Homo sapiens: one gene and its partners. The protein of the gene in region 1 interacts with the protein of each later gene in a biochemical or structural test. Each region holds a gene or a part of one and is shown on either strand. Other genes may lie near its edges. The genes, in order: NPR2, NPPB and NPPC.

Region 1 (7,107 bases):
ACTGCACACCTCAGTTGACTGGCAAGCCGAATCCTGCCACCCCCAAGCCAACAGCAGGGTTGCAGGGGCTTCCCTGCAGCTCCTGAAGCTGCAACTGTTACACCTGAGAGACAGGGCTGGAAGATAAGGCTGCATTCTCGGCATATCTGGCACATGCCCTATGCTCACTAACAAACACAGAGACTGGGGGTGAAAGTTCTTTCCTAAAAGAAGACCAATGGAAAATTCACCTTTGATCTTAACCCCACTGAAAAACACTAGTTAGTATATCCAGTCTAGGACCAAAAGTGGAACAAACACCTAGGCTAAGCGACAACTAAAGAGAAAGGCTAGAGAGGAAGACGCTGTTGGATCTAAGAGACAACCAGCAAATTAAGAAACCTACTACCCTATCCCACATTATAGGGACCACCTGGCTTCAGCCAGAGGTTGTGTGGCAATGGGGGCAGGGAGTAGGTCAGCAAGAAACCCAGAACTCACCGGAAAATTAGGAAGCTGGAAACACCAAACATGATGAAGGTGATTCCTGTGCCCAGAGCCACAATTGCCAGGGTTGAAAGTGGAGCTGAAGGGGAAATAGAGACCCTGAGGAAGACTGTGTGCGGACTTGGCAGAATGGAGAACGGGGTGCATAGGTGCATAGACAGACTCCTTGGGAGTAGGAAGAAATGAGGAGGGAGGGATGCAGACGTAAAGGCAGAAGCACAGTTAAGAGTGGAGGGTCAGTGAGGGTGGAGGCCATGAATGGAAAGCAAAGGGAGGAAAGCTGCTCCCAGTCCCTGCACACACCCACTTTTATCACAGGATGGGTCGTCCAAGTCAAAGGCACAGGGGGGATTGTCCGAGGGAGGAGCCCCCTTCACCCAGGGAATAGGCCGTCCCGTCCACCAAATCTGCTTCTCAGCTCCCGAGTAGTGGGCTGCAGGCTGTAAGGAAGCAAAAAGCTGGGCCCACAGGCCTGCTCCCACCAGCCTCCTCCCCAGACCCCAGCTGTTTCGCTGCTTTTCTCCCCAGCCTACCACCCAGCCAGGATGCAGTGCCAGCAGAGAAAACAAATCCCTCATCTAGTAGTTTTGGTTCTGCCCCGACTGAACCCTTGAAAGCTGGATTTTGCAGGGCCACACTCTCTTCCCTGCCTCCTCCTCCATCACCTGAAAGTCCCCAGAATCCAGGTCTCCCATGGCCCAGAGGACAAAGTCAGTCTCTCGGTCATTGTTCTTGTCCATGACAACCAGCCCAGTTACACCTAAGACAGAAAAGAGTGTCCTTTCTTTGAGGTCTACCCTGGGCTCCTCTCCCACTCACTCATGCCTACGGCTCCCTCAGAGTCTACCCTTCCCCGATCTTGAGGTGTGGGCAACTCTGCCATATTCACTAACCCCCACTAAAGCTGTGGTGATCCTGACATCTGTTTCTTCTTCAGCCCACTCTATTCCTGACATCAGCCCTCAGACCCCCATTGACCCCTCTTCATTACCGTGATATCTTCGTCCCTGCATCTTTTCCACAATTCGAAGTCCATCCTCCCGGGTGCCTCCTTCCTGTATTGTCTCATTCAGGACTTCAGCATATAGCAGGATCCCATCATAGAAGCAGCCAGCGATGAGGTTCATCTGGGGGTGGCAACTTCAGCAGTACTCTCCAAATGTCCTGCAAGGCCCCTTCCCCTCTCTCTGGGGTCTCCCTTCTACCTATTCTCTCTTCTGGTTTGCTTTCTTCCCTCTTATTCCTAAAGTGCCATCCCTTCCTAACTACTCCATAGGGCAGAAGGAAAAATCCTGGACAGAAGCGGAGACCCCCCAAAGTTGGGCTTGCTCCACAGCCAAGACTTGATGCTGAGTTTGGGAGAGAAGCCCTTCCCCAAAGCTTGACCTGACTCTCAGGAAGGGAGAGATCTACTTACCAGGGAAGGGCCCAGCTCCACACCAAAGTCTTCCCGGGCTCTTATCAGCAGACGATTCTGGAATTCCTGATACTCAGGATTTGGGGGTTCTCGGTACGTGATCACCAATACAGTCTGTACCAGCAGCATATGGGGAAGAGTGAACAGGATTCAAGATAGGCATTATGGGAAGAGAAGATGCAGGACAGGGAAACTTGGTAAAATATACATGATATAAAATATACACAGGTGAGTCTGAAGGCTTTGAAAGGGCTACTAACCTCTCTCTCTCTGCGTGTGTGTGTGCGTGTGTGTGTGTGTGTGTGTGTGTGTGTTGTGTTGCATACATCTGGGAAGAGGGAGTGGCACTCCTCCTGAAAGGTAGATAGGACTGGTTCTGGGAAGGTGGAAACTGGCAAATAATAGTCAACCCCATCCCCAAAGCCCAGCCCAACATCTTCCAGAGCTCCCTTCCAGCATCCAGGTTCCTGCCAGGCCACCACAGCTCACACGGCTCCTCTGTCCCATGCTTTCTGGGTATCTGCTTATGATCAAGGACAACACCCACTAACAGCTCCTCTCTGAGATGTTAATCACTGTTAATGTCATCAGTAAAATACTAACATTGTCATTTCGGCCACTTGAACACAGTGTCTCCGCCCAGTGAATTAGAGAGATTTCAGGCCCTATGACAACTGAGGGAAATACTTTGAGACAGTGATTCCACCTGTGAAAAGCTGTGTGCTCATCCATTTAATGTGTGGAACACCTACCACAAACAGCACTGTCCTGCTTACTGAGTAATAGATGTGTCACAGGGACAAACACACAGTCACATGCCCACACACATTTCACAGGTAAGCAAATGACACATGTGATCTCAGACATGCACACATCTCACTGGCGCATGAGTCAGCATCTCTGTCTCTCACCAAAGTGCCTGCTTGGCTCCCATTAGTCTCACACATTTCCCCTTCCTGAGCTGCTGGACCTCCCAGTCTCAGGCCCTGCCTCAGGCCACATAGTCACTGAGACCAACTTCTGCTCCAACAGGAAACTGGCATCACAACTTCAAGGAAAGACTTCAGTTCAATATATTTTATGAAACATGACTTTGTGAAATGATAATTTAAAATCCGGTCATTTCTCCCAGTTTTGTTTATTCTTGTCATAGAAAGTACATGTGGACCATAGAGATACGCTGCACTAGACACATCACATATGGCCTATTATGTATCAATTCATTAGAGATAGGAAATAATAAAGTCGATTTCTAATATGCATTCATTATATTATATTAGACTGCAGCTTGCCTCAAGATATCATTATTCTTACTAGAGCATTTAGCTGCCTGATTACACACTTCTAACATTCTCCCAGTCTCAGGTAAAATTTTTTTAAAAAGAGAAGGGAATTGAGGAAAGGGTTGAAATAGTTCATTCAGTAGCACCTGTTCCAAGAATAAAATAAAGAGGTAGAATATTGTTGACAAGCAATGTAAAAAGTCAGGAAAAGGGCGAGAAAAGATCAGGTTCAACACAATTTATATTTCAATAAAGGCTGATGATAGGTTTTTAACACATTTTAAACACTAATTCTCAACACTAAGTTTGGCTAGTTTGTTAGGCTAGCAGTTATCAAACTTTTGGTCTCACAATCGCTTTATACTCTTAAAAATTATTAAGGACCCCAAATAAAGTTTGTTTATGTGGACTATATCTATCAATATTGACCATCTTAGAAATTAAAACTGATAAATTTTGAAAACGCAAGAACACACAAGCACACCTTCCATAGCTGTCCAAGTGATGACATCATCATGCCATGTAACCTCTGGAAAACTTCCCTACACAATCACAAAAGAACAAGCGTGACAAAGCAGATAAGATCTTTGTATTATTTTTAAATAGTTTTGACCCCATGGTCCCCCTAAACTGCTATGCTAGAACTGTTTTTGCTGTGGTTACTAGTTGTAGTTGTAGTACCAAAAAACAAAAATGAAAAACCAAACCAAAAAAAAAAACCCAACCTCAAACAGTTTCTGTGCTTGCTCAGGGGTTTGAGAGAAAGTGAAGGAGGATAATTGTGTCCCATTTCACAGTGGACCCCAGGTGGAAAAAACAAGCAAAGTCCGCCACAAATGGGTGCAGTGGTGGGTGGGTGCCAGGAGCACACCTAGGAAATGTGCACCCTCAGGAGGCACCTGCCTCTATCTGTGGACCCGCCCACTGAGACTTGCCCTGGCCAACTGGAGAGTGGTCAACAGTGGCCTAATGAGACAAGTGATCTCCAAGCCCTTGGTTTAGTGCTTTCTTCCATTCTTGCCGCTGGTGCTCCCTGTGTGTAACCCAATCTCATGCTGGTCATGTAGGTTGTGACCTCTGCCTGGGTTTCTAACCCTGTAGTCCTCCATTGACCAGCCTGGGCTTCTGGATCCTCAGAGCCTGGTCATTGCTTATTTAGTTCCACTCAATCTTTTCTTCCCTATCCTGGTTGATCACCTAGTTTACATTACTTGCCAGCTCTACTCCTGTCTAGGTGAATTCCTCATCCTATCCCCCTCTCCCCAACACACCCCTAATTCAATTCAGCAAATATGTGTTAAACACCTACTACATGCTAGACATATGGAATATGAAGATGAGCATGATCCCTGCCCTGGAGCAGCTAGTGGCTAAATGGGAGAGAAAAATCATATCAACATACTTGATTTCAGAGCTCTCTCCCTAGTAGCCAGTATCGATACGGCATGAGCTAAGGCCTTTCCTTGAGCATGATACCCTCCTGGAAAAGCTGTGGGCATCTGTGTCAAGGCCTCCTTTCCTCTATTGCCACCTTTTCCAGGCTGGCCTGGTCTGGGACCTCAGAGGGCCAGTGTCTCTGGGAGAAAGGCTCTGTGCTCTTTCATCCTTGCTTGGCTGTAGCTAACTGCCCAACTTCCCTCAGACTCTCCCCTGCTTCCCCATTGGAAGGTGGGGGGCGGGGCACCTTATCACCCCTCAGCCCCACCTACCCAAAGCCTTGACCTTCCCATCAGCATATTCCTGGTGCCTAGTTCCCTTCTCTTGTGTTGCAGCAAAGATTCCCTCTTTATTTCTCTGTCTGAATAATGCCCACAGTGAGGGGGAGAACTGAGAGTTAATTGATATAACTGATTATTGGATGACTAGATCCCTCCTCTAGCTACCCTTAATGCTGGGGACTCTTGGCTGGGCAATAATGCTCACAGAAGAAAGTGAGGCTTTTCTTCCACAAATAGAATACAGCCAGCAAGGCGCAGTGGCTCATGCCTGTAATCCCAGCACTTTGAGAGGCCAAGGCAAGAAGATCATTTGAGCCCAGGAGTTCGAGACCAGCCTGGGCAACATGATAAGACCCCATCTCTATAAAAAATAAAAAATTATCTGGGCATGGTGTCATATGCCTGTAGTCCCAGCAACTCGGGAGGCTGAAGTGGGAGGATTGCTTCAGCCTGGGAGGTCAAGACTGCAGTGAGCAGCTGTGATCACACCACTGCTCTCCAACTTGGGCAACAGAGCTGTCTCAAAAAGAAAAAGGATATAACCAGGAAGGTTATGGAGTGCTCCCATCTGAGAGGGTCACAGATCTTCTGCAGTCCACACCAGCTGAAGTACAATCCCCTTGTTCTTCTCTTTTCATAACACTCTATTCCTTTCCTCTTTATGTTTTAGTAACACATCACAATATGTTCCTACATTTGTATTTATTTGCTTACTTATTTATTGCCTGCCCATCCTACCAAATGTAAACTCCAAAAAGGCAGGAACAAAGTCTGTTATGCTCTCCCTTGTATACCAGTACCTAGCACAGTGACTGGACATGATAGGTGCTCAGTAAATACTAATGAAATGAGTCAGCCTTCAAATAAATCAAACACAGACTGAATAATATGGTTAGTTCTATGGTAGATGGAGTTAAGCAAAAGAGTAGGAAATTCAGTCCCACTTAGGGATTCTGGGATCATTTCCTAGAAAGGAAAATAACTGGTATGAGTCTTAAAGAATATGGAAGCATTACCCAGACAAAGGTGAGAAGATTGTTTTAGGAAAACATTATGGCATAAACAAAACCTGCCCTGCCACTGCCCATATTCAAGTGTGACAGTCACAGACTCATTCTCAGGCATGCAAACAGCTATGTCATTCTCAGTCAGACACACACTCGTCAGTCGCAACCAAATATATAATCACAGCCACATAAAACCTTATTGGAGAAGAATGGCCACCCAGGTCCAGCCCTTATACACAGCTACTTCGAACCAAATAATCCCAGAGTTTAAAGGACTTTAAGGTTATCCCATAAGCCACCTCCAATCCTTCTTGGAAAAAAGGAGGGATATGGATAAATACACGGGAAACACTTATATGCACGGTTAGTAAAAAAGTGGCGGGGGAATCGGGAAGATTCATGGGTATGATTTTGAGAGGCAGATATTTGGGATGAGGGAAGGAAGAGCATTCCAGACAAAAGGAAAAAGAACATAAAGGCACAGGGGCAGGAAGGCCCTGGGGTTGGGGGAACTCAGAGGCCTGGTAGGCTGCAGTTCTCAGCATGAGGGTACCAGGAGGTAAGACTGAAAAAGTGGTTTGAGAACAGACTGCAGAAGGTCTTAAATGTCACAATAAGGAGTCAGGATTTTATTCTCTAGAACACAAGTCACTGAAAGTTTTGAGCAGGAGTGAAATGAACAGAGTCATGCCAACATTCCCCACAAATTTTCTGAAATCTGAAATGCGTTTCTTTCCATTCCTGCTATCATCACACTAGTTCAAGCTATATCACCTCACCCCCTTCTAATCTGTTACAGTTGGTCTCACTGCCCCAGGTCTCCCCCTCTTCTAATCCTGAATTCTGTCACTACTGTATAATTATCTCCACACACACACACACACACACAAAAAGTCAAGGACCCCAAATTCAAGTCCTAGTGCCTTAAGACTTAGAGCTCTCCTTAATCTGATTCTACCTTTGCAACTTTATTTCCTGTATCTCCTTTAAGTGAACCCCTCATTCTTGTCGGGTCAGTATCTTCTTGGTCTCTCAAACACGCCCATTCCTATCTTTTTCTCTTTGCTCAGGATGCTTGGATCTCCTCTCCCACTCTGACTATGAATATGACATCTATCATTAAAGTCACAATACGGTCTCACTTCCTGTGTAAAAGCCTTCCCTAAACACAGCCCACACTGACTCTTCCTCCTCTG
Region 2 (6,185 bases), on another chromosome or scaffold:
CCAGGGGAGGGGCACCCTGGAAAGCTGGGCTGATTGCCAGACCCCTCTCACTTTGTGGGTTGGAGTTTTGAAGGCTCCTTTGCAGGATGACCCCAGGAATTGGAGTTTCAAAGCTGATATTTGGGGCAGGATGGAGGGCTCACCCCGGTATGGGAATGTAGATGAGCCACACCCACACACACTGCCCCCAGTCGTTGACATTTTAGCTGAGACCTGAAAGCAATAATCCCCAGGGAGAGTGCTTTAATGGTGGAATTCCAGGCAGAGCAAGGACGAGTGGAGAAAACGGCTGGATACGTGCCCTCAGGTTGCACACGTATCCTGCCCTGCTTTGAAAAGCAGTTTCTCCCAAGTGCCTCAAGTGCTTGAGATATTCAATAACATTTCAGAGCATTAAAAACTCTGAAAGAAAAGAAAGCCTGCTACCTCTGAGGCCACATCCTCATCCCACCATGAAGATGCCTTGAGATCACAGGGCTTTGTGGTTTTAGTTGGGTTGGTTTCTTTGAAATGAGGGATTATTTTTAATGCGCCAAGACAAATCAGTTTCAAAAGATAAAGCTTATAATGTTGACTTTATTTCACCGTGGAAATTTTGTGCTCAAAGGTAAGAAACCATCTTATATAAAACAATCAAATAAATACATAAATACATTAAAAAAATGAGTCACTTCAAAGGCGGCCACAGGGTTGAGGAAAAAGCCCCTTGTGGAATCAGAAGCAGGTGTCTGCAGCCAGGACTTCCTCTTAATGCCGCCTCAGCACTGTCAGGGAAAGAGAGAGGGTGATGATGGTTAGGGTGGGAGATGGAGGCAGGGGCTGAGCTTACCTCATCGTGTGCCACCCACCACCCTGTTAGTCATCAGACGTTTGAGGCTTAATGCAACTCTCTGAGCCTCAGTTTCCTCATCTGTAAATTGGGGATTATCATTGCTCTGGTGATCCTGCTCTCTGCCTTTGAGACTATAGACAGTTTAGAGGAAACCAGGAGGAAATGTTTGGTTCTCTTTCTGCACCACTGGGGGGCTGCCAAATGATAAACAGACCCCCAAAGGAGATTCTGCCCCTTTGATAAGAAGTAGGAGGTGGGGAGAAGGTATTGTGGGCATGGTAATGAAATAAGCCCACATTTACTAATTCCACAAAGGCACCCCTTGGCCCTGAAGGCTGTTAACAAGAGGAAGCGATGTCCAGGTGACCTTTTCTCAAAGAGTGTGGTTCCCAGAGACAACAAACCCCAAAGTGACTCTAACAGTGTCACACACTGGAATGGGGGAAGGCGGCCGGGGTGGCAGGGGGTGCTTACCTTTGCAGCCCAGGCCACTGGAGGAGCTGATCCGGTCCATCTTCCTCCCAAAGCAGCCAGACCCTTGCACCATCTTGGGGCTTCGTGGTGCCCGCAGGGTGTAGAGGACCATTTTGCGGTGCCCACGGATGCCCTCGGTGGCTACCTCCCGGGACTTCCAGACACCTGTGGGACGGGGGCTCTCCTGGAGGGGCTCCAGGGATGTCTGCTCCACCTGCAGCTCCGACAGTTTGCCCTGCAAATGGTTGCGCTGCTCCTGCAATGAATGGGGGCGTCCAAGCCTCAGGGACCCACCCCTGGGCTCACCAGCCCTTCATGGCACCCAAGTGAACCGACTGCCTTGGGTACAGGGTCAGGGCACCCAGTCTCTCCATTTTCTGATTCCTTTATCACTAATTCCAAAGGAAAGATGAGGGCCTCTTGGGACAGCAGGTGAGGACCCTTTCATTGCTGCTGTCCAATCCCCCTGAGCTGCCCTCCGCTCTCACCTGTAACCCGGACGTTTCCAAGTCCGAGGCTGAACCGGGGCTGCCCAGCGGGTGGGAACGACCTCCCAGGAAAGCCAGATGCAAGAAGAGCAGGAGCAGGAGCGCCCGGGAAGGTGCTGTCTGGGGATCCATGTCTCTGGAGGGACTGCGGAGGCTGCTGCTGCTGCTTCTGCTGCTGCTGCTGCTGCTGCGATGCGTCCGGGTTTGCTTCCCACCTGCCCTCAGCCTGCGGGGTGCTCCTCCTGGCTCCTCGGGACACCGTGGCCTTTTATCCTGGAGCTGAGTGTCGGGCCTGCCCTGCCATGCAGGGTTATCTCTGATTTATCAGCCACATTCCGGGCCTCTGAGATCAGGGCCCGGGAATGAGCCCCTCCGCGCCTGCGACGTGGGAGGTGGAGACCGGGCAGAGCCGACCTTGTATAGAAATGGGCCGGGTCGGGCCGGGGGGCAGGAACGCGCTGGAGACACAGACAAGTCCCCGTCTCCCGCTTCTTCCTTTCCTGCAAATGTCCAGGTGTCCTAGGTTGGCGCTTTCTTCCTGCCTCCCCACCCCACCGTTGCTGGAAAAGGCAGGGAGGACCCCGGCTTTCCGAGGACCGACGTGAGCGCGGGGAGCACGGGGTGACTCACAGCGAAAACAGCCCCGGCCAAGACCCCGCCACCCGCGGCGCCTCTCCCCTCCCCGCGCGAGTTCCCTGGCCCGCACGTAGCGCAGCACCTGCTCGCCGCTGTGCACCCTGCCTGCCTGCGGGTCCTCGGGGGCGCCCTGGCCGCTGTCCGTGGTGCTGATCACCCCGAGGGAACTTGGAGCAAACTCTCAAGAGCTGCTCTCTTCAACGGGATTTTCAGGCCAGAAAGACCTGCGTGGAGCAAGGACAAGAGACCTCCGAGACCTTTCCCTATGCTCTCACAATCCGCCATCTTATAGTCCTTACAGCAACGGGATGCTGATTCCCCAGTGGCAATTCATTAAAAGCCTGGGTATGACCAGGAACTTCTGGAATGCTGACCCTTCTTTCACTCCTTAAAGGGAAGAGCAGATTTCGCTGGAATTTTGAGAGATAGGGTCCAGTGATGACGAAGTCACCCAAGAATGCCTTATATGTGTGTCCTCCACGTGTCAACACCTCCTCTCCCCCACCAAGCCAACACAGGATGGAAAACAAAAGGATAGGCTGGGCATGGTGGTTCACGCCTGTAATCCCAGCACTTTGAGAGGCCGAGGCGGTCGGATCACGAGGTCAGGAGATCGAGACCACGGTGAAACCCCGTCTCTACTAAAATTACCAAAAATTAGCTGGGCATGGTGGCAGGCGCCTGTAGTCCCAGCTACTCGGGAGGCTGAGGAAGGAGAATCACTTGAACCCAGGAGGTGGAGGTTGCAGTGAGCTGAGATCACGCCACTGCACTCCAGCCTGGTTGACAGAGAGCGAAAAAAGAAAGAAAGAAAGAAGGAAAGAAAGAAAGAAAGAAAGAAAGAAAACAAAAGGATGGCTGGAATGATGGTTATCTATTTGCTGGGATACCAGAGATATGGGGATTTCCCCTCTCCCAGTGCCTCCTTCATCTGACCACCCATGATCTAATTATCATTAGCAGGTGGCCTGGTGATTAGAAGTGAGACTTTGGAGAGAAATGCCCCTGAGAAGAGTCATAGCAGCTTAAATACCCCCCTAAAGCATATATGACTGATGTCACTCCCCTTCCAGAGAATTGGTGTCAACAAGCAGCAGGCTGGAGGAGTGGAGCTGTCTATGAGGGGAGAAGAGTTACAGCAGAGAAGGGCAGCAATAAGAAACTGGGACCTCTAAGCAGATCTTGCCTAAAAAATAGCATCTGCCCCTGAGGTGAGAAAAGCACGGTTATTATTCCTCACTTCAGAGGAGGAAATGGTGTTCATGAATTAATCTACTTTCCAAAAGTCACACAATTGACACATGATAAATCCTGGATTCTAACCAGTCTGATTAGTCTAGCCAGCAGTCTGATTCCAGACCTGAAGCTCATAATCACTGCCAGGGTGATCACAAGGTGTTTCTACAAAAAGCAAGCTTAGGTGAATCCCGTGTCATCTATGAAGGCTCTGGGAGCTGTGCTGTGGGGGATGTGCAATTCTAGTGGTGACTGTGTGTGCAGGAGAAAGAATGGGAAGTGGCTCAGATGAGCATTTTGCAGATGAAATATAAATGGAGGTGGGTGGGTAAGGGCTGTGTAAAGACACCAGTGCTGGAAATGTTCTGGGGGGCTGGGGTAGTTTTGTGTGTGTGTGTGTGTGTGTGTGTGTGTGTGTGCGTGCACATGAGCATGCCACAGTAAGAGTATCAAAAGGCTAAGAGGAAGCTAAAGAGGTAAGAAAATTCAGCCAAGTGCAGAGGGGAGTCAGTGGGCGAGAGGCTGCTGAGGGTGCAGAAAGCCCCTCATGCTGAGTACCATGAGATAAAGGGTTCAGAGCAAGGCAGGATTCATCAACCAGCACCATCAAAAACTGACTCTGCATCTCGCCAGAGCCTCACTTTGCTCTTCGGCAAAATGGACAGTCCTTGCAAGGACTAAAAGGAAAAAAATAATATCTGCAAAAGCCCGTGGCACTGTATAAAGGGCCAAATAATTAGTAGTACATGAGAGTTGGTCTTTACACTGAAGGAGATTGTGATCTCACTGGGGAGACAAAGTGACCCCAAGTGAGACAATTAAGTGTCTAAGTGTCATACACTCTGACAGAGTTTCTATCTGTCCCCAGTGGAGGGGACTGTGGAAGAAGACTTGAGGAAGACACAGAACTAGACACATCCTCCAAGGCCTGCTGTCCAGGGAGGAGGATATGTTGTCAACTAACTCTCACACCAGATCAGCCCCATCAACATTTATCGAGGGCCTGTCATATGCTATGTGCTTTCCAAGTCTATTTAATGAAGCTAATCATAACACCTCTGTTGGAGCATTAATGTACAAGGATTAAATTTGATGATGTCTGTGGTAAGCTGAATAATAGTCCCCAAAAGATGTCCATATTCTAATCCCCAGAATCTGCGAATATACTACTTTACATGGTAAAAAGGACTTTGCAGGTGTGGTTAAGTTAAGGACCTCAAGGTGGAGAGATTCTCCTGGATTATTCAGGAAGGCTCAATGTCATCACAAGGGTCCTTATAAGAGGGAAGCCAGAGGATCAAGGTCAGAGGGACAAAATGTAAGGATGGGAACAGGTCAGAGAGGAGAGAAGAGACTACACTGCTGGCTTTGAAGATAGAGGAAGGGGCCATGAGCCAAGGAATGTAATCAGCCTCTAGAAGTTGGAAAGGGCAAAGAAATGGATTTTTCCCTAGAGCTTCCAGAAGGAATATGGGCCTGCCAATACCTTAGTTTTAGCCCAGTGAAACAGATTTCAGACTTCTGATGTCTGGAACTGTAAGAAAATAAAATCATGTTCTTTTAAGCCAACAAGCTTGTGAGACTTTGTTTCAGCAGCAATGGGAAATTAATAGAGTATATGTCAAATGCCAAGCATAGTGTCTCTCCCATAGTAAGCCCTCAGCAAATGTTGTTATGGTAGAAGTATTGGTTCCCCACCACCATCCAACTCTAAGTGCTTAATCTGGCCACACAGAAAGAAATAAGACCCTTAAGTCATTCAACAAACTTTCACCGAGACCCTGGGGTCACAGTAGCCCAGACCCAAGACTGAAATCACAGTCTGGGCTCAATTTCACATCAACTTCTTGCTACCTTTGTGTGTTGGGCAAGTTGCTTCCTCTCTCTCCTTGTTTTCTCATGGCTACCTCATAGGGTTGTTGTGAGCATAAAATGAGACTGTGCAGGTTAAAATCTAATATTTCTGCTGGAAGGTGGGGATACATAACGGACAAGAAAGTCCCTGCCATTGAGAAGCTTACAGTGCAGGGGGAAAGGTGGGCACAATCACAGGCTCCCCAGGCTGCCACAGTGAGTGACAGATACAGTGGCAGTGAGTCCTGGATGCTCTGTGAGCACAGCAGGAGTGCGCAGTCGAGAAGGGAGTTTGTTGGAGAAGGTGGGGCTGGGCTAAGGCTTTGAAGGATAAGAATGAGTTAGCCACAAGAAGGAAGATGGAAGATGGGGAGGGCACTCTGGGCAGAGCAGATGCACAAGCAGAGGCTAGAAGGGCTGGTTAATGGATCAGCTACCACCCCTATGCTCTCTGCAGAAGGAAGAAGCTGTGCAGAATACAAGGTTTGACTAGTCAGAGAGTAGGACTCCAGCTGCAAGATTTTTCTGTAGCTTCCCTCTGGCCTCAATCTCCAGTCTAGTCCTGGGCAGCCAAAGTGGATGGTATGAGAGCACTGGGCACCTGGGGGAAGCAAAGGAGGAAACAGAGGAGCACTGACCCAGGAGGCAGGAGGCAGGCTCGTCTC
Region 3 (7,729 bases), on another chromosome or scaffold:
TCATTAATGTGAAAAATCTAAGCTGTCTTTCTCTTTACGCCCAGTGATATATCCTGGGCATCGTCACCAGGAGCCTGCAGGAATGATGTTCTGCTCTCTCACTGGGAATGGGGGGCAGTGAGGGTGGGGTTTTTATTTTTCATTTAAAAAATCCCAAATAATAAATCCACACCGCCCTTCCCAAATAATAATAAAACAGCTGGTGTTGGGCGTAAGCCGGTGTTGAAGGTGTCGACGGTAAGTGTTCATCTATGCTAAGAGAGCTGGTAGGAGATTATTGAACCCCCCTGATCAAAGGGGTCGAGAATTCTTAACAATGTGGATTCCTCCTACACAGCATCTTTCACCACCCGTTTGGCCATCACTTGGTGACCACAGACATCCAGGCCCAAGAACAAAGCCCCTGTGGGGATGCGCATTCCAGGTACGAACCAATGGAGAGTCACTAACATTTGCTCAGGTTCTAAAGTTTGAACTTGATGCTTAAATCAAACTGAAAATTTGAGGCCTCAGACTCCGTCTCTTTGTTGTTTAGACAGGAGAGAAGAGAGCAAAGGCATTCCAAGGGTAGCTACTGAAGGCTGGTCCCCAAGTGTCAGAATCATTCTTCTCCCTGTGCAGGGGAGAGTCAAGATCACAGACAACTACAGCCTTTGCAGAACTGGGGAGAGGCCCACAGCCGAGTGAGGTCTGGCTGCAAAGAGAGGAAGGGCACTGGTTAAAACCTCGGGCAGGTGGGAGTGGCCATGGGCCAGGGTGTGCTGGTTTCTCTGGTCATTGACAAATATTTCCACGAGTCTGTTCGGGGTGCAGTGGGTCCTAGAGTGCCTTAGGCCAGCACTTCGCCCTTAAGCTGTTCAATATGGAGAGGTGAATGGGTTCACAAACTGTGAAAAAGTGTTCTGTACTGTAAAAAAGAGACAGTGTGCTGGACAGGCGCTCTTGTTTCCCTCCGGGAGAAGATCCGACACTGACAAGGGTTTCTGGGGAGGAGACAGCAGCTTGCCCGTAGCCTGGGATGGGACAGTCAAGGTGTGGGACAGGCAGTGGCAGCTGCTGAGCTGGAGGCAAGAAAGCGAGAAAGCCAGGTAAGCCTGATCCTAACGCACATGACTGTCAATGTCAGAGGCTGGGATGTTATTCAGTGGGCACGGGCAGGCGGCAGGAATAGAGAGGAGGGAAAGAGGAGAGGTGAGGCTCTCTGCAGCAGTAAATTACCACCACGCGGCACCCGGCAGGGGGTGGCGGTAGGGCAGAGGTTTCCAGCCCTAGTGCGGGGTGAGACCCCACACCAGAAACGGAGCCCAGAGCACCGGTTGGGTCGGGACAGGGTTGGTGAGGGACTCTGGGACGTGTTGAGTTCGAGGCTGGGGCAAATAATATTTACTTTAGTGTCTTTCCTATTCCCTGAAATAGTGCCACAAGCACTGAGATTCACCCCCGAAGCCACCAGGCTGCAGCTGCCTCAGGACCCTGGACAGACCAGTTTGCCCACTGCCTGGGTTTAGAGAAGGGACAGGAATCGGAGTGTCCCAGGCAGAAGGGCGCTCTGACAGTGCCAGCAGAGGGCTACTCTCACTACAGGGGGCATGGTGGCCAGCAGATGATCGATGTCCCCTGGACTTGTGGGTGTAACCTTCCTTCTCTGCTCCCACAAACCCATGATCTCCTCTCAATCCCCCCACCAGCTGGCCAATAGGGGCCAGTGCTGCTAGTTCAGCTACGGTTCAGGGGTGGGTGAGACACCACCAAGCCTGTTTCTGCTTCTCCAGAAGAAGCCAGGTGGGTTCAACCAGGCTGAGCCGTTTCTGACCTTGCCAAAGTTCCCCGATCACGTTATCCTTCGCTTTCTTTGTCTGTAAAGTGGGATAATAAAGGGGGCGGCTGGCAAACGCCTAGCACAACTTGAGCAAAGGCGGCTCGCGCGCCTCCGAAGGCCGGCTGGGCGGCGGGCGGTCCCGGGCCGGGCTGGGGCTGGGCGTCGGGTGGGCCGTACTCACCGCCGCCAGGGGGCGCCGCACTAACATCCCAGGCCGCTCATGGAGCCGATTCGGTCCAGCTTGAGGCCGAAGCAGCCCTTGGACAAGCCCTTCTTGTTGGCTCCTTTGTATTTGCGCGCGTTGGGGTGCTCTTGCAGAAGGCGAGCCCACGCTGCCCGCGACTTGGTGTCCACGCGCAGGTCCCGGAGCAGTCGCGACCGGTCGCCCTTGAGATTGGCGCCCCCGCCCCCGGGAGCCTTGTCGCCCTTCTTCTGACCGCCGCCCGCAGCCTGCGGCTCGGCCAGCTCCTCTGCCGGCGGGGTTCGCGGGACCTGTCCGAGGAAAGAGCGGGCAGGTGAAGGGACACGCGGCTGCAGCACGGGGGACTCTGATGCTCCAGCCCCACGCGCCCGCCGGCGCGGGGTGTCCCTCCCAAGCCCAGAGCCGCCCCCACCGATGCCGGCCAGCTTGGCCCCGCATCCACCTGCCACGCGGCCGCCTTCGCCGCTCCCTCCGGAAGCCCCCTGCCCTCCCTTTGCTGCTCGCCGGGCAGGCCACACTGGGGTAGGGGGCTGCGCATGGGCCGATGTTCTCCGGAGGCTGGAGAAGTGGACCCCCGAATCCGCGCTTCGAGGGCTCCCCGGCTCTCGCCCACGCGCATCTCGGAGGAGACAGCCGCCTGCCTTCCCTCTCTCCTGGGTCCTGCGCGCCGCATTCTCCAAGCCCCCAGCCTCCCACGCCTCTCCCAGGCTCGGCGTCCCCACGACAGCACCCACCTTCGGCGGCGCCCCGGGCTTGGCTTCGGAGGGCCGGAGGGAGAGCAGCGTGAGCAGCAGGGCGCAGGCCAGCAGCTGGGAGAGATGCATGGTGCCGCTGGGGTCGAGGGGCGCACACGGGCGGCAGCGAGGGCGCGCAGGTCGGCGGGCAGACCAGCAGGGGGATGCGGAGCAGGCTGGCTGGGCTGCAGGGCGAGCAGGGTCCCAGTGCTGCGCGGCGCCGGCTGGGTGCGCTCTGAGCCCGTGACTCTGCTCGCGCCTTTATAATCCAACCTGCCGCTGATGTCATCCTCCCGCCCACCGGGCCGCCCGGGCCAATGACACCACGCACGCGGCCGCGCCGAGGGCCGGGAGGGGGCCGCGGGGGCTCCCCTCCCTTATCCCACCCCGGAGGGATCCCGCGGCTCGGCGGGCTCGCTCCAGGCTGCACTTGGAGCTGCAGAGCTGAGCGCACAGGGGAACTCCATTTGCAGCGAGCGCGCGCCCTGGCCTGCCGAGCATCGGTGCGCCTGGTGCCCTGTGCACCCACTAGGTCCTCATCGCACTCACTCTACCTGGAAGGGATACGTAGCCCTCTTTGCAGGTGCAAAGACAGGCTCAGAGGAATGAAGTCACTTGCCCAAAGTCATACAGGCATAAAGTTGGCGCTGCCCGAAATCCACGCAGCCCTGCTTGTCGCCAAACTCTTCCCTGGGCACCTGACAGCCGCGGGATGGCATTGCAGCTCCGCCTTTCACCTGCCGGTCAGGGCGGGAGCGCAGACCACAGCGACGTCGTTAGGTTGGGGAGGCAGAGGATGGGGTTGGAGGACTGGGGTGGGAGGCGCAGGGAGAGCGGGGTTCGCCTGGGCCGCAGGGGGGAGCGCAAGTCTTCCACACTGGAGAGTGCAGGGGTGTCGCCAGCCTGAGTGTTTGAGCGCAAGGCGGGAACGAGGGGACTGCGAGCGCGGAACCAAGATATTCATGCTCATGCGTGTGCTCCGCGGCATCGTATGCTCGCCAGTTACTGCTCTAGGTTCACGTTCAGCCGGTTTCGGCCACACAGAACGTCCCGGGGTCTGACTCCGCTGGTGAACTCCCTCTGTGGGAACAATGCGCACCTGACCTTGCCTGCACCCACGCGAGGATCCGCTGCTGGGGGAAGCCCGCTCCAGTATCCTGTGCACTTTCACAGGCTGGGGAGAGAGCTTCCTAGCCAGCGGCCCAGTCCAGCCTCTGCCAGCCGTGACAGGTGGTCAACTTCCCGTTTTTGACTGTAGAGAGGTCCCCGTGGCTCTCGGGACATGGCCACATATCCCTACCACTCACGAACTTGCTCTCCTTGCACTGGGCTTCTCGGTCCCTTGGACACTAAGGAGTGTGGTGGGCATTTGGGCACTGCGGTGTGGGCCGCAGAGGCGGAGAGCCCAGATCCCCCGAATTGATTGAAGAGCAGGAATCTATGACTGGCTGCTGCTGAGCAGGACGCAGGCTGGAGAGAGAACAAATGTTGCCGCAGGAGTGCAGTGGCTGTCCCCAGGCGTGAAGGCGATTCTGGGGAGACAGTAGCCCAGACGAGATTTTCCAGGGAGAGGAAGCTGTGCCTGAGGCAGGAAGGCAACTGGAGTGAAGAGGGGCTTGGAGAACCAGGTTCCCTCCAAGCCTCCCTCTTCCCTCCGTGGTAGTGAGCCTGGTCCCAGAGCTGCTAAGGCGGCCGCATCATGGTCTGCTCTGTCGGCACCTTTCTCAGGCTACCCCTTCCCACTCTCATACCCTGACTCACAACATTGGAGCAACCACTACACAGGTCACTTTGCTTAGGAAACAGCTAACACCTGAGGTCTGAGTTTGGGGCAGCAAAGTTTCCTGATCTCCAGGAAGATCCAGACATCAACAGGGCACCTTCTGTGGATTCTGGTGAATTGAGTCACCACCTCCACGCAGCCCCCCAATTCCTCTCCGTGCTAACACCCATAGAGTGGCACCACTCTTTCATTTGAGGAGAAAGGAAGAGGAACTAGAAAGCAGTATAGGGAGGGGTATCCAGGTGGGCTGTGAAAGTTCCCTCTGCTTTTTGCCTGCTGTGCAAAGAAGGATGTTACCATCTGGAACTTCTCTGACACTTGCTTTCTTTATACCTGTTTAAAGAGTCAGGCAGAGCCACACAGACTGACTCTAGAGTCAAGCACTGGGCTGGTTTCCAGGGGCCAGCAGTACATCCTCTAAAGCCCCTTATTAAGGAAATCTTCCGCTGTTCATGGCTACTTCCTTCTGTCTGAACGTCCTTAGGTTGGTCCTTCCTGTCTTCTGTGTTCCTAGACACATTCGCGTCCAGGTGATTGACTATCTAGGTCTCCTCTCTGTTTGAACTTTGAGGCTAAATTAATAAAACTGACACCCCCAACCTACTGTGGCAGAGCCGATTCCCTGGACTCACCTTCCCATCTTTGGAAGGGAAATCTGGTGAGCTGCCACTCCTGACCACTGGGCGGTGGTCATCTGCAGAGGGAGGCTTCCCGGGGGGCAGGCTGTGGAGCAGCTTCTGCTTAGCTGGGGCCTGGGAGGCAGGGTGGGTAAGAGTCAGAGGCCTGGGCAGGAGGGGCCACCGGGAGGTGTGCCATCAGCACATAACTGCCTTGGAGATGAAGGTTTCCCCTCTCCCTTTGCTTTCCTTGCCTGGGGAGCTGCAGAGGACGCCCACTCTTCCTCCTGAGCCTAGATTTGGAACTCAGGTCCCTTTTTGTTGCTTTTCCCTTACGAAGTCTGCTTCTTCTGCCCCAGGCCCCAGGGGCATGGCCTGGGAAAGTTGAACTCACTGAGCAGCTGAATATGAGCTATTCAAGTCATTTTATTGACTGCTCAATTTTAAATTTCCTCCTAACGGCAAAAGAGGGAGAAAAGGCCCCAAGGCCGCGGTAATTCTGTAAGGAATCATGTCGTTCTCACTGATCTCGCTGATCTCCCGGTATCTACTGAGCATCCCTGAAGCCTGCAGGGTTCCATCCAGCCGGGAAGAACCCCCTAGCAGACAGACATGAGCTTTGTAGGCTGAAAAGGACAATGACAGGGAAGGGGACAGGTCAGGCTGAGGCCACCCAAGGAGGGCTCCTCCTCCAGCCTGGACTAGCAGGGTGGGCTTCCTGGAGAAGGAAAAGTCTGTGCTGAGCCTGGAAACACAGGAAGAGAAGGGAAGAGAAGAGGAAAACCTCGACAGAAAACCAGGCTAACAGTGGAATGTACTAGAGTCAGGCCTAGAGGGGTGCTGTTTGAGAAAAACCAAATGAGAGGCCTCACCAAAGGGCAACACAGAGGGCAGGGGAGGCCGATGAGACTGCAGAACCCCATGTGCCCAGACCTCGGGAGGGTGGAGTGCTTCAGGCAGGGGTGCCCAGAGGAGGCAGACTAGGGAGAGGCAATTCTAAGGTCGATGGTGTTCTGGAGGTGGGGGGTGTGATGGAGAGAGAGGAGCCTGCTGAGCTCTTGGGGGTGGGAAGGGCAAGTGAGCTTATTGGGGGTGCCTGAAGATGAGGCAAGGGGAAGGGGGTCAGCTAGGTGTGGGGGAAGTGGGAGGGAGCAGGAAGTGGGAGGCAGAGCCAGCCTGAAGCATGCAGAGCCTTCAGTGTCAGAGAGTTGCATGGGCGAGTCCAGGGTATCAGCTCTGCCACAGTAGGCTGGGGGTATGCAGGGCCTTCAGCGTCGGAGAGTTGCATGGGTGGGACCATTTTCTCCCTTCTGGCCCTCTGAAGGGCGGGACCCCGTTTTGTGGGCCCCTTTTCACTCTTTCCCTCCTCCCAGAAGGGCAAGGTGCGACTCTGACACCTACTGGAGAGGGGCCCTTCCTTGGGACAGGCGATGTCTGGCCAGGAATCAGGATGTGATAGAAAATGAGAGTGGGCCCTGGTCAGGATGCCTGGTGGGAGAAAGGCGTGTGGAAGGGCTGCTGGGAGGCTGGGGAAGGAGCAGCTAAGACAGGACTGTCCAGCCTAGGTCCCCAGGAGGGAGGAACAGGAGCCCCGCGAAGCAGCGCCCCCTCCTGGCCCCAGGGCTGCAGGGGAGGGCTCTCAGGCACACTGGAGGGGAGGATTGCAGAGCCGCCCATCTGTTTCTCTGCAATTGTTTATCCCGGGGCCCCCTTCCAGCTGCATAATTTCTCAGAGAAGACACTAAACAGGCAGTGAGCGAGTCTTGAGGTCAGGCAGGGAAATTGCTGCGGGACACTGGCCAAGTCCCGTCACTGCTTTGGGCCCTCAGTTTCACCACCTGTAATTAGAAAAACACTGTCCTTGTCTTCTAGACAGGGCAGAGTGAATCTGGGGCCTGATAAGAGGCTTCCAACCTCTCCCTGGCCAAACACAGCAGGAGACAGCTGAGGCAGAAGAGAGATCTGAATGTCACTGCATGTCCACACATACTTTTGGGTGAGAGGACCCCCACAGCCCCCGAAACTCCCCAGGACTGTTTAGTGGTGCAGCCCCTCAGAGCACACAGAGGCCGGGGCATGGCCAGGTCTCCTTGAGCTTGGTACCTTCCTCCAGGAGTCCTGCACCCATGGCGCTGGACTGGAGTACTGGAGGAGATGGAGGCCAAGGAAGCGTCATTCATCCTTCACGGGCCAGAGATTCCAGGAAAGCTTAACCTCGTTGTACCATGAGTCTTTGACCCCAGGACACCCCCATCTGATGAGCCAGCTGCCCTCCTTCCCTTTCCCAGGGGTCCTGCCAGCACCTGCTCCAGATGGCCTCCAACCCCACTGTCCTACGCAGTCCATGACGTCAGAGTTCATTCCTCCTTTCCCCTGCTTGCCAAAAAGAAAAGACAGGTCCTCCACAAATAGGCTCACTTCCCTGGGGGAATCAACAGCTCTCCATCTGGCTGTCAAAGGGCAGGTGAGTGGGGCAGTGAGAGGCTTCAGCCCTGAGAAAGTGAGCAGGATAGTGAGCAAGAGGGCCTCCCCAGCAGAAAAGAGCTCAGCACCCCAACCTCAGCTCAGAGCCTG

Evidence for each region.
Region 2: the proteins of NPR2 (region 1) and NPPB form a complex in vitro, tested with the Homo sapiens proteins (3 studies listed by BioGRID).
Region 3: the proteins of NPR2 (region 1) and NPPC form a complex in vitro, tested with the Homo sapiens proteins (3 studies listed by BioGRID).

The regions. Positions count from the first base shown.
Region 1 is NC_000009.12:35,794,528-35,801,634, reverse strand, and holds part of NPR2 (atrial natriuretic peptide receptor 2 isoform 1 precursor), read right to left. Parts: intron 2,018-7,107; coding exon 1,904-2,017; intron 1,614-1,903; coding exon 1,478-1,613; intron 1,247-1,477; coding exon 1,152-1,246; intron 927-1,151; coding exon 794-926; exon of another isoform or gene 790-793; intron 566-789; coding exon 481-565; intron 2-480; coding exon of another isoform or gene 1-1. UniProt on the Homo sapiens protein: Receptor for the C-type natriuretic peptide NPPC/CNP hormone. Has guanylate cyclase activity upon binding of its ligand. May play a role in the regulation of skeletal growth.
Region 2 is NC_000001.11:11,856,908-11,863,092, forward strand, and holds NPPB (natriuretic peptides B preproprotein), read right to left. Parts: upstream 2,039-6,185; 5' UTR 1,927-2,038; coding exon 1,795-1,926; intron 1,563-1,794; coding exon 1,307-1,562; intron 765-1,306; coding exon 748-764; 3' UTR 557-747; downstream 1-556.
Region 3 is NC_000002.12:231,923,405-231,931,133, forward strand, and holds the start of NPPC (C-type natriuretic peptide preproprotein), read right to left. Parts: upstream 2,993-7,729; 5' UTR 2,846-2,992; coding exon 2,756-2,845; intron 2,312-2,755; coding exon 2,021-2,311; 3' UTR 2,001-2,020; intron 1,062-2,000; exon of another isoform or gene 1-1,061.